Homo sapiens: one gene and its partners. The protein of the gene in region 3 interacts with the protein of the main gene of each other region in a pairwise test. Each region holds a gene or a part of one and is shown on either strand. Other genes may lie near its edges.

Evidence for each region.
Region 1: the proteins of VWC2 (region 3) and NTM interact in binary tests that used the Homo sapiens proteins (3 or more experiments, as listed by UniProt).
Region 2: the proteins of VWC2 (region 3) and GNE interact in binary tests that used the Homo sapiens proteins (3 or more experiments, as listed by UniProt).

What each region holds. Positions count from the first base shown.
Region 1 is NC_000011.10:131,368,510-131,372,261, reverse strand, and holds the start of NTM (neurotrimin isoform 9 precursor), read right to left. Parts: upstream 1,648-3,752; 5' UTR 1,456-1,647; coding exon 1,374-1,455; intron 1-1,373.
Region 2 is NC_000009.12:36,223,841-36,227,592, reverse strand, and holds part of GNE (bifunctional UDP-N-acetylglucosamine 2-epimerase/N-acetylmannosamine kinase), read left to right. Parts: intron 1-134; coding exon 135-345; intron 346-3,752. UniProt on the Homo sapiens protein: Bifunctional enzyme that possesses both UDP-N-acetylglucosamine 2-epimerase and N-acetylmannosamine kinase activities, and serves as the initiator of the biosynthetic pathway leading to the production of N-acetylneuraminic acid (NeuAc), a critical precursor in the synthesis of sialic acids.
Region 3 is NC_000007.14:49,909,556-49,913,307, reverse strand, and holds part of VWC2 (brorin precursor), read right to left. Parts: intron 1,275-3,752; coding exon 1,123-1,274; 3' UTR 1-1,122. UniProt on the Homo sapiens protein: BMP antagonist which may play a role in neural development. Promotes cell adhesion.

The DNA of each region.
Region 1 (3,752 bases), on a different chromosome or scaffold from region 3:
CCTTATCACCCGACACAGATCCCTCCTGTCCCCACCCCTTGCCTTCTTCATCGAGCCCCAGTCAAGGGTGTACACATTTGATCCTTCCAGCCTGGTCTCTCTGCCCACCTTACGTGGATCCACACTGCAGCCACTGCAACCTATGTCAAGAGGACAGCAGCAATCCCTAAATCCTAACCTCGGAGAAGAGCCAGCAGGACTACAGCTCAGGACTCAGTCCAGATCAGGAGAACTCCATATTGCAGGGGGAGAAGAGGGCGAGGGGGTGGGACTCCCCATCGTTTTTCACCGGGTCAGAGGGAACTTTCCTCTGGGAATACAACTGCATAGGACTGAGCCTCACCTCCCAAGAGAGGGCTCCTCCTCCCGGAGCCCTGCTGGGCCACCCTGGGAAAGTTTCTCAGCTTGTCTCGATCCTTACGAGTTTTAGCTGTGTTTAATATAAAAGAGGCAAACTAGTTACCCCAAAGGACAGGGCAGGTGGGAGCAAGAAGATTAGTGGATAATTCTGTTGCTGGAACGAACAGACGTGAGAGCCGGGATGGGGTGTGGGGAGGCACGGTGCAGCAAATGGACTCAAGGTGGAGGCCGATTCCAAATGCACAGAACACAGCACTGGGGACATCAAAGCTTGCACTCAACTGCAGCCCCCAGGGCTCCCGGCTCAGCCGATAAATAAACAGAAAATTAGCATTCGACTCTTATTGCCTCTCTCCCTTCAACTTCGAAAAGCTTTTTAGAATTTCAGAGCCCCGGCTCCCCTCGCTTCCACACCTCCGACCCCAGCCACAAACACACCCCCGAACACATTTAAAACTAATACAGTTGTCCCCCACTGCTGCAAATTGACTCATCCCTTGCAGCTGGATCGCTGACCAGAACCTCACAGGAAGCACCTGATTCTTTCTAGCCTGCATTTTCCCCTTTGCTCCTTTTAAAAGCTTTGCAAGTTCGCTGGCCGATATTTAAAGTTTCCTCTTGTAATTTCTTCCCAGTCGCATAAGCAACACATTAGCAACCCTGTTGCCCTCCGAATCTGTCATTTCCCCCTGCTTACATGTGTGCTCCGTTGTGTATGTGTGCAAGAATGTGCATGAAGCCAGGGAGCCTTGCACACAAGCACAGTCCTAACAGGAGCACCAAACACATTTTACTTATGCACATACATATTCCCCCATTCCGGTAGCAGCCAGAATCAAATCAATATTCTCACAGCCTAGTCGGGAGAATGAAGTCCCAGCCATGCTGTCTAAACGCTCTCTCCTCCACCTGCAAACAGCGCAGCACAGCCGACTCGGGGAGTCTGCAAATCTTATAAAGCACACTGTACAATTCCTGGGTCTACCGAAGGCAAATCAATAGCAAGCTCTTACCTTGGAAGAGACACAGAGCAGCCAGCCCCGTGAAGATTGCCCAAGAGATAGAATTGTGCATTTTTGGCTGGATGGTTTTCATGATTTTTTTTCTTCTTCTTTTTCTTCTTTTTTGTCAGGTTCGGTTTTTTTCTTTCTTTCTTTCCTGATAGATTGTGTTGCTCTCAAGCTTGTGCAAGGAGATTTAAATCCACTGTTTTGCTGAAGGACACAACAAGAAAGCCGAGGGTGTGAGAGAGTATGACTTCTCCGTAATTATCTCCACTCATACTCTGGCACTGAGACACATTGTACAATCTGGCCCTGGACAGCCCTCCTACAAGCTGCAATCATTGGTTCTAATCCAAGGATTGACAGAGCTACAACACACGCGCGCGGGCACACACACACACACACACGCACACACACTCTCAGGAATCATTTACTGGGCAAATCAGGCTAGCTGATTAAAGAGACAGGAGCCTGGAGAGATAGAATGATAAATGCCACTTTGCCCCTTCTATATTACTTTCATTTTTTAAACTGACAGTCTCTGAGTCTTCTGAGTATCAGAAAATCCCTTTCCCCCTGGCATTCCCTGGCCTCCTGAACTCAGATTCCCTTTGCACTGGAAAAATCCCATAGCCAGCCATGGCTTATGGGAAATTTTAAAGGGACATTTTCATGCTCAGTGAAACTTGTAAAGATGAGGCAATTTTCATTTGTTGGTACCTATTTTCCCCTCCAATGGAAATATCATTCAGTGACAGCTTTTTTTTCTCTCTTTCATCAACCTTTCTACTTAGTTGCTTTGAAAATAGTAAATAACTTTCTATTTTCTCCTCCTGTCACTTCTGTTTCAGAACATCTATGTTACTCCTCTTTTTCATTCACTTTTTAGAAGTCAATTTCCTAAATTCATCCATGTGTATATGATACAATGGAAAGGTACAAAGTACCTGGTATTTGAGAAGAAGCTCTATAGTCTGAAGATGGAGAACCTTCTTCAAAAGAAAACAAAGCAGGAGTTTATTCCCCATGACTTGGTCAATCCACATCCACTAAAGCAATCATAGAAGCATCTGTGATTTAAACTGCAGCGAGAAAGATTCAGGGTAGACATGCGGAGGGGCTTTCTGAGTGTAAACTTTGTGTAGTTCCTCAGACAGTTGAAGACATTAACCTCCTTGGTGATAGGAAAGAATAAAAACCGAACAGAAATAATCTAATGGACATAAATGATTTCTTAAGAGGTCTAATTCTAGGGCCTGGAAGTTTATTCTAATCTTTGGCTTCCCCTTATGAGAAGCAAGTTAGAGGATGTGAACAAAAAATCTAGAAAATGTAGCTCCTGGCTGGGCACTGTGGCTCACGCCTGTAATCCCACAACTTTGGGAGGCCAAGGAAGGCCAGTAGCCTGAGCTCAGGAATTCGAGACCAGCCTGGGCAACATGGTGAAACCCTATCTCTACTAAAAAATTCCTTAAAAATATCTGGGTTTGGTGGTGCGCACCCGTGGTTCCAGCCACTTGGGTGGCTGAGGCAGGAGAATTGCTTGAGCCTGGGAGGCGGAGATCACAGTAAGCCAAGATGGCGCCACTACAATCCAGTCTGGGTGACAGAGCCAGCCCCTGTCTCAAGAAAAAAAAAAAAAAAAAAGAAAAGAAAAAGAAAATGTAGTTTCTCACAGAACCTTCCTTAGCTAATTCTGACACATTCATACCCCTACTATGCCTTGACACACATTTTAAAAATATTCTTCTAGAACTCCACCGCTAATTATTATACTTCCTTGTAACCCCATAAAAATGTTCATGTATTTTCAAACTGCATAGAAGAAAAGTACTCATTGTCTGTTTGTATTTTAGTGTACAGAGGTGAAATGAAAACATCACTGCCATTTTGCACATGTCTAAGACGTACGATTTACCTTGGCTTTTTTCTTTTTTCTTTCTTTTTTGTTTTTGTTTTTGACAGACTCTTGCCCCGTCACCCAGGTTGGAGTGCAGTGGTGCAATCACAGCTCACCGCAACTTTGAACTCCTGGGCTCAAGGAACCCTCCTGCCTTACCCACTATGCCCAGCTATTTTTTTTTTTTTTTTAATTTTCTACAACATAGTAGAGATGAAGTCTCACTATGTTGCTCAGGCTGGTTTCAAACTCCTTGCCTCAAGCAGTCCTTCCAGCCTTGGCCTCCCACAAGTTTACCTTGTGTTGTGTATGAATAGGGACAACACTGCCTGGAATGTGGGATCTTGTGACCTTGAGAGGAAGGGGCCCTGGGACCTCAAGATCTGGGGACCTCAAGATCCTTCTCATAGTTCTGCACAACTAAGGGACCTCAGGCAGGTCCTTTCACCTCTGTGAACCTTGGCTTCTTGTCTATAAAATTGTAGAAC
Region 2 (3,752 bases), on a different chromosome or scaffold from region 3:
AGGAAGATGTCACTTTAGGAAGAAGCATGAATTATTTTTACCTGAAGTCTCAGTTTCCATTACATTATACCCTCACTACCACTTAACATGTATGGCAGAAGCATATAATTTAATTGACTTTTTGTATATTGCAGTTCAAAGATATATGGGGATGGAAATGCTGTTCCAAGGATTTTGAAGTTTCTCAAATCTATCGATCTTCAAGAGCCACTGCAAAAGAAATTCTGCTTTCCTCCTGTGAAGGAGAATATCTCTCAAGATATTGACCATATTCTTGAAACTCTAAGTGCCTTGGCCGTTGATCTTGGCGGGACGAACCTCCGAGTTGCAATAGTCAGCATGAAGGTAAAATAACTCCTAAACTCCTAACTTTATATCCCATATGAGCGATTGATTTTTTTTTTAAGTATATATAGTTGGAAGGTAAGACTAGAAACATACACAAGAGCTTGTAATCATTTGCTGATAGTATTGACTTGTGGATCCTTTACAATGTTTGTCTCACTATTTTACTGATCATTAACATTTCAAAGAAGTAAATTCTTTGGGAATCCAAGACGGTAGACTTGACAGTGGGAAGACCCCTTTAGGCATCAGATCGGGCTTTTGCCACCCAAAAGACCTGAAATTCTATACTTGGTAACAGCTTGGAGTGTGGAGTATGCTGATTACTATCACTGCCCAGGTGAGGGGTATCAGCAAATGGTGAAGGGAGCTGCCTCTTCTCTAGAATGTGATCAGTTGTGTGGATTTTCCATTTTGCATTTTTACAGTTCTGCTCTTTATTGAGTACAGCATACCTTCAATCTGTTAACCAAACCATCACCCAGTGTTGACAGGTGAGAGAACATTCATAAAAATAACAAACTGTTCATGTTAAAGTGATCTCTAATGACTTAGAATAAACCTACTAGAAAAATCTTGGTTTGAAATAGTGTGAGTGTATAAAGCTTCCAGAGACGATGAGAAATAGCAAAGATTTTAAATGTAAAGTTGTAGGAAATTTATTAATACCATTAGGTCAAATAAGGAAAGCAAAACAAAACATAATTTTCTCAAGAAAAGCCAAGAGGCCTCCCTTATAAATACTCTTTTAAAAACTAATAGAAGGCTGGATGCAGTGGCTTACGCCTGTAATCCCAGCACTTTGGGAAGTCCAGGTGGGCAGATCACTTAAGGTCAGGAGTTTCAGACCAGCTTGGACAACATGGTGAAACCCTGTTTCTACTAAAAATACAAAAAAAAAAAAAAAATTAGCTGGGCATGGTGGCAGGCACCTGTAATCCCAGCTACTTGGGAGGCTGAGGCAGGAGAATCGCTTGAACCCAGGAGGTGGAGATTACAGTGAGCCAAGATCGCACCACTGCACTCCAGCCTGGGCAACAGAGTGAGACTCCATCTCAAAAAACAAAACAAAAACTAATAGAAGAATAGTTTCTTAACAGAAAGATGATTTATTCCATATGAAAGGCCAACATCTTTTTCAATGGTGAAATTCTAGAGGCATTCCCATTGAAATCAAGAAGAAAAGAAAGATGTTTTGTGCAGCATTATCTCACATAATTTTGGAAGTTATGAGGGAATAAAGGAAGGAATAGCAAAAATGGAGATTATTGATAGGGTAAAACAAAAAACATTATTAATAGACAAAAAAATGCTTGGCTCCCACCCTGGACTGGTTAAATTAGAGTCTCTGGGGATGGGGGCCAGGCATCGCTCTTCGTTAAAAGCTGTCCAGGTGATTCTGATGCACAGCGAAGATTGAGAAGCACTACTCTAGATTTTTTATTCTCTTAATTTAAAAAAATTTTTTTTTAGAGACAAGGTCTTCCTATGTTTCCCAGACTGGACTCAAGGTCCTGGGCTTAAATGGTCCTCTGCCTCAGCCTCCCAAGTATAATAGCTAGGACCACAGGCACATGCCACTGTGCCCAGCTCTAGATGTATTTTTGTTTTTTGAGACTGAGTCTTGCTCTGTCGCCCAGGCTGGAGTGCAGTGGCGTGATCTCGGCTCACTGCAACCTCTGCCTCCCGGGCTCAAGTGATTTTTGTGCTTCAGCCTCCTGAGTAGATGGGACTACAGGCTTATGCCAGCATGCCTGGCTAATTTTTGTATTTTTTGTAGAGACAGTGGTTCACCATGTTGCCCAGGCTGGTCTTGAACTCCTGGGCTCAAGGGATCTGCCAGCCTCGACCTCCCAAAGTGCTGGGATTACAGGTGTGAGCGACCGTGCCTGACCTAGATTTATTTTTAATGACAATCCTAGTGACAGCTCTAACCCTATATTTGAGATATAAAAATCCACTAATAACAAAATAATATAAATGGAAAGAGAGATCTTATTCAGAACAACAACAAAAACTCCTAAGAATAACTGAAACCAGGAACGATGTAATCTATATAAAGAAAATTCTAAAACTTTACTGTAAGACATAAAGTCTTGAAAAAAATGCCCTGGATGGAAGTGCTGATTATTTTTAAGATGTCAGTGTTTTCCCAATTTGATTTATAAGATCAACATAATCTAGTAAATATTTCAATGGTATTTGTTTTACATTTAGTAAAATTATTGTAAATCACAGTGGAATTTCTCAAAGTTTAACATTAAAAGTACAAAAGTCAGTTGTGCAAAGAAAAAAGATAAAGACAAGTAATCAGGAGGGACTATCCCTGTTTGGTATTAAAACATATCAAAAAGCACAGTAATGTGTTTTATTTTTTTGAGACAGGGTTTCACTCTGTCGCCCAGACTGGAGTGCAGTGGTATGATCTCGGCTTACTGCAACCTCTGCTTCCTGGGTTCAAGCGATTCTCCAGCCTCAGCCTCTCAAGTAGCTGAGACTACAGGCGTGTGCCACCACGCCCAGCTAATTTTTGTATTTTTTATAGAGATGGGATTTCCTCTTATTGCGCAGGCTGGTCTTGAACTCCTGAGGTCAAAGTGATCTACCTGCCTCGGCCTCTCAAAGTGCTGGGATTACAGGCGTGAGCCACCACGGCCGGCCATATAATAATTTAAACAATGTGGTATTTCTGCCAGCCAGGATGGAAATTTACCCTAAGGAAATAGAGTATCCAGACCATCACTGAATTCAGTTACAGGAGATGATTAAAGCTCAGCTACTTAGTTGCCTCAGTGTTTTTTTGTTTTTGTTTTTGAGAAAGGGTCTCACTCTGTTGCCCAGGCTGGAGTGCAGTGGCGTGATCTCAGCTCACCGCAGCCTGAACTTCCCAGGCTCAAGAAATCCTCCCAGCTTAGCCTCCCAAGTAGTTGGGACTACAGGCATGTGCCAACATGCCTGGCTAATTTTTTGTAGAGAGGAGGTCTCACTGTACCTCCCAGGCTGGTTTTAAACTCCTGGGCCCAAGCGATTCTCCCGCCTTGGCCTCCCAAAGTGCCGGGATTACAGGCGTGAGCCACTATGCCCGGTCACCTCAGTAAGCAAGAAAGTTTTGTCAACCTGAAAGAGTAAACTATGGTCTTTTAATGAACTAGGCTCAAATTAGCGAACATTGAACTTAAGCTTAAGAAAGGGGCCCGGCCGGGGGCAGTGGCTCACGCCTGTAATCCCAGCACTTTGGGAGGCCGAGGCAGGCGGATTGCTTGAGGTCAGGAGTTTGAGACCAGCCTGGGCAGCATGGTGAAACCCCATCTCTACTAAAAATACAAAAATTAGCCGGGCGTGGTGGCAGGCACCTGTAATCCCAGCTACCTGGGAAGCTGAGGAAGGAGAATCGCCTGAACCTGGGA
Region 3 (3,752 bases):
AGAAGTTGGTTTGGAATTATAACTATAGGAAAGTTGTGGAGTGCACTTGGTCTTCAGCTTTGTTTTAACAAAATAACTGCTTCCTCACTCTGCTTGTGAAGGGTGGCTAATTCAAGGTTATCAGTCAAGATTTTACTGTGTAGTTTATGGAGGATAGATGACTCAAGTCTGATGACAAATATGATTCCACTGAACTGACAGCTGAGTTATCTGTAGCACATTTAGATTTCAGGTATATAAACTTGTTTAGGAGTTTGATTTTCCTTAACTATCCTAGGAGAATCGAAGGACTCCTCCCCTATTTTGTTGTCTGCTTCAGCTTGATGGAACAGTAATGCAAATTTTCCAGCCTACTTTATTCCTCAGTTTAGGGAATGAATTAAAGTTATCCTTAGAAGAGAAAATAATGTAAATAAGAATGAAATATATGTATGTGCTTACCTATGGTGTACAATACAGGAGCTTAGGGGAAAGAACTGAGAAAGTGTGAGTTAGTGATCTTTACACCTGCATTTCACAAGTGACTGAGAATGAAGCAGATAAAAGCCATATATTATTATAAAAAGGAAATATATTTATGTGAAGTAGACATCAACATTAGAGATATGTCTGTAATTAAATAGAATTTAAACAGGGTTTCAGTGGAAATTGGTCCTAATATCTTATGATCCATTCATGCGTGACTCTGCCCTGTGAAAATGTGCAGGGGGAACATTCCTGGGTGATGGAATCAGAACTGAAAAAGATATGCAGGTACACGGTGAGGACGGTTGACAACACAGCATTTTTAATCTGCATCTATAGAAAACACTTATATAAGCTCTCTAATGGAGGGATTATAGAAATACATTTGATATATAATAGTGTACTTTTGTGTACTTACTGTGAAAATAGCACATTTATTTAGAGAAGGATTTTATGCCCAAAGTTCTTGTTGATGTTTTGAAATATATCCATTTCCTTCTGTTGTAGTAACTGTTATCAAGAAAAGGAAAAGTACCAACAATTTTCCATTATTCCTCATCAAAAGTCTTCTTTGACTGATAGTTCCCAGAGTCATCTAGAATGTTCACATCAGTAAAATGTTCTAGAAAAAGTCAGAGTTTGTGTTCTGGGAAGCGTCTACATTTGCCTGCATTCATGTCTCGTGCACATGGCCTGCCGCTCGATTCTCCATGTGCCTTCCTCATAAGTACAGTGGCATATGGTGCACTCGTCAGTCTTCACTTCTCTGCCAGCAGGGATCACCGCGGTTTCTGCAAAGCAGTTTGGACCTGAAATGCAGAAAAATGTTTTATACTATATGTGTGCATAAATATATAATATATATAATTAGGTATTAAGCATTACAGTATATATATGTGTGTGTGTGTGTGTGTGTGTGCGTGTATTTGTTTGTTTGTTTGTTTTTGAGACAGAGTCTTGCTCTATCACCCAGGCTGGAGTGCAGTGGCACGATCTCGGCTCACTGCAACTTCTGCCTCCCGGATTCAGGCAATTCTCCTGCCTCAGCCTTTCAAGTAGCTAGGATTACAGGGGCATGCCACTATACCCAGCTAGTTTTTGTAATTTTTGTAGAAATGGGGTTTAACAATGTTGGCCAGGCTGGTCTTGAACTCCTGACTTCAAGTGATCCACCCACCTTGGCTTCCCAAAGTGCTCAGATTACAGGCATGAGCCACTGCACCCGGCCAATGGTACATATTTTATTCAGTTTCTTTTATGAAGGACAGTGGCAAAGTTATAATTTCAGTAATAATGAAATACTCTACTTTTGTTCTGAAATGAAACCAATGCCATTTAATTTTTTTTTTTTTTTTTTTTTTTGAGACAGAGTCTTGCTCTGTCACCAGGCTGGAGTGCAGTGGCACGATCTCGGCTCACTGCAACCTCTGCCTCCGGGGTTCAAGCGATTCTCCTGCCGCAGCCTCCAGAGTAGCTGGGACTATAGGGGCGTGCCACCACACCCAGCTAATTTTTGTATTTTTAGTAGAGATTGGGTTTCACCATGTTGGCCAGGATGGTCTCGATCTCTTGACCTCGTGATCTGCCCGCCTTGGCCTCCCAAAGTGCTGGGATTACAGGTGTAAGCCACCGCTCCCAGCCCATTTAAAATTTTTATAAGAGACAACACTGTGACTTTCATTAACTTTTCCATTTTGGGGCTAAAATCTGCAGCCATTTCGTTTAATTAATTCTAAATACTCACAGAAAAAGCATAACTAAGACCTTCAAAGAACCAGTCCTCTTCAGGACACTTTCAGCAGAGATATCTTAAAACAAGCAAACTGCTTGAAGTGACATAAATTCAGTATACCTTCCAGGCCTCCGAGGGCAGCTTTTCAAACTTTCCCATACATTACAATGGCCTGGAGGGCTGTTGAAAACACTGTTTGCAGAGTTTGTGATTCACTAGGTTTGGGTTGGGGCCTGAGAATTTGCTTTGATAAGTTCTCAGGTGATGTGGATGCTGCTTGTTTGGGGATACACTTTGAGAAGCACCATCTTAGTGTGTTGCAGGAGTCTATCTTTCACAGTTTTCCATGAGAATTGAGGATCTCTGTAATTCTCAATCAATTCTATATCAGCTATAATATATCAGCCAACAAATGTGTCACATCTGCACTTTATGTTAAGATCAAGGACATGGAGAGATGAGTATCAGAAAGAGTTCCAACGTTAGTTAAAACACATTTTTTTTTAAAAGATTAATGGCTTTGTGTTATGGTTCATACCTGTAGATCTCATTCAGCTATGAGCAACTGCTCTACCTCTATACCTCCCTCCAAAATTCAAACACTGGTAATTACTGCATCCTAAATAAAGGCCCTCAACTTTTATCTTCAACAGTTTGCAAAATTCTCATTCTCCTCCCTTCTTTGCTTCTAATATCTTTGATAATGTGCTCACAACCAAAATGTGTTTAATTATAGCGTGTGAAGTCATCAAAGAGATGAAAAAGGTCCATCTGCAAAATTTTAAAAAATAAATTAATCCAGCAAACTCCAGAATAACAACTGGCCTTTGAATAATTCTAAGTACAATAGCTTATGTTCTGTGGTGGTGGTTTTCGAGTTCGCCCAGGAGGTGGAGGGCCCCCGCTTCTGGATGCCCAGCTCTGCACATGGCTGCCTGCTTGCATGTGCCCCCTTCTCCCTCCCTGAACTCTGTTTTCTTTTTTGTTTGTTTTGTGTTTGAGACAGGGTATTGCTCTGTCACCCAGGCTGGAGTGCAGTGGCATGATCATGGCTCACTGTAGCTGCTTCAATCTCCTGGGCTCAAGGGACCCTCCCACCTTAGCCTCCTGAGTAGCTCTGATCAGAGGAGCACACCACCACACCTGAGTAACTTAAAAAAAAAAATCTTTGGAGATATGAGGTCTTTCTATGTTGCCCAGGCTGGTCTCAAACTCCTGGGCTCAAGAGATCCTCCCGCCTTGACCTCCCAAAGTGCTGGGATTACAGGAATGAGTTGCCGCACCCAGCCCTGGACTTTCTTTTCTTCTTGTCCCCTGTTCAGACACTGCCCTAAGGTTCTGCCCTTGAACTCTTTCTCTTTCAGAGAACCCAACAATCATTCATCTGGCAATGACTCCCAAATTTTAGTTCCAATTGTACTTTCTCGCTTGAGCTCCAGTCTTGTGTTTCCAGGGGGCCAGTATCTGCATTACCTGAAAACACCAGATTTATGATGTCTGAGCCCAGTGTCACATATCCATTAGCTTTGGTGAATTGTAAGACTTTAAATTCAAG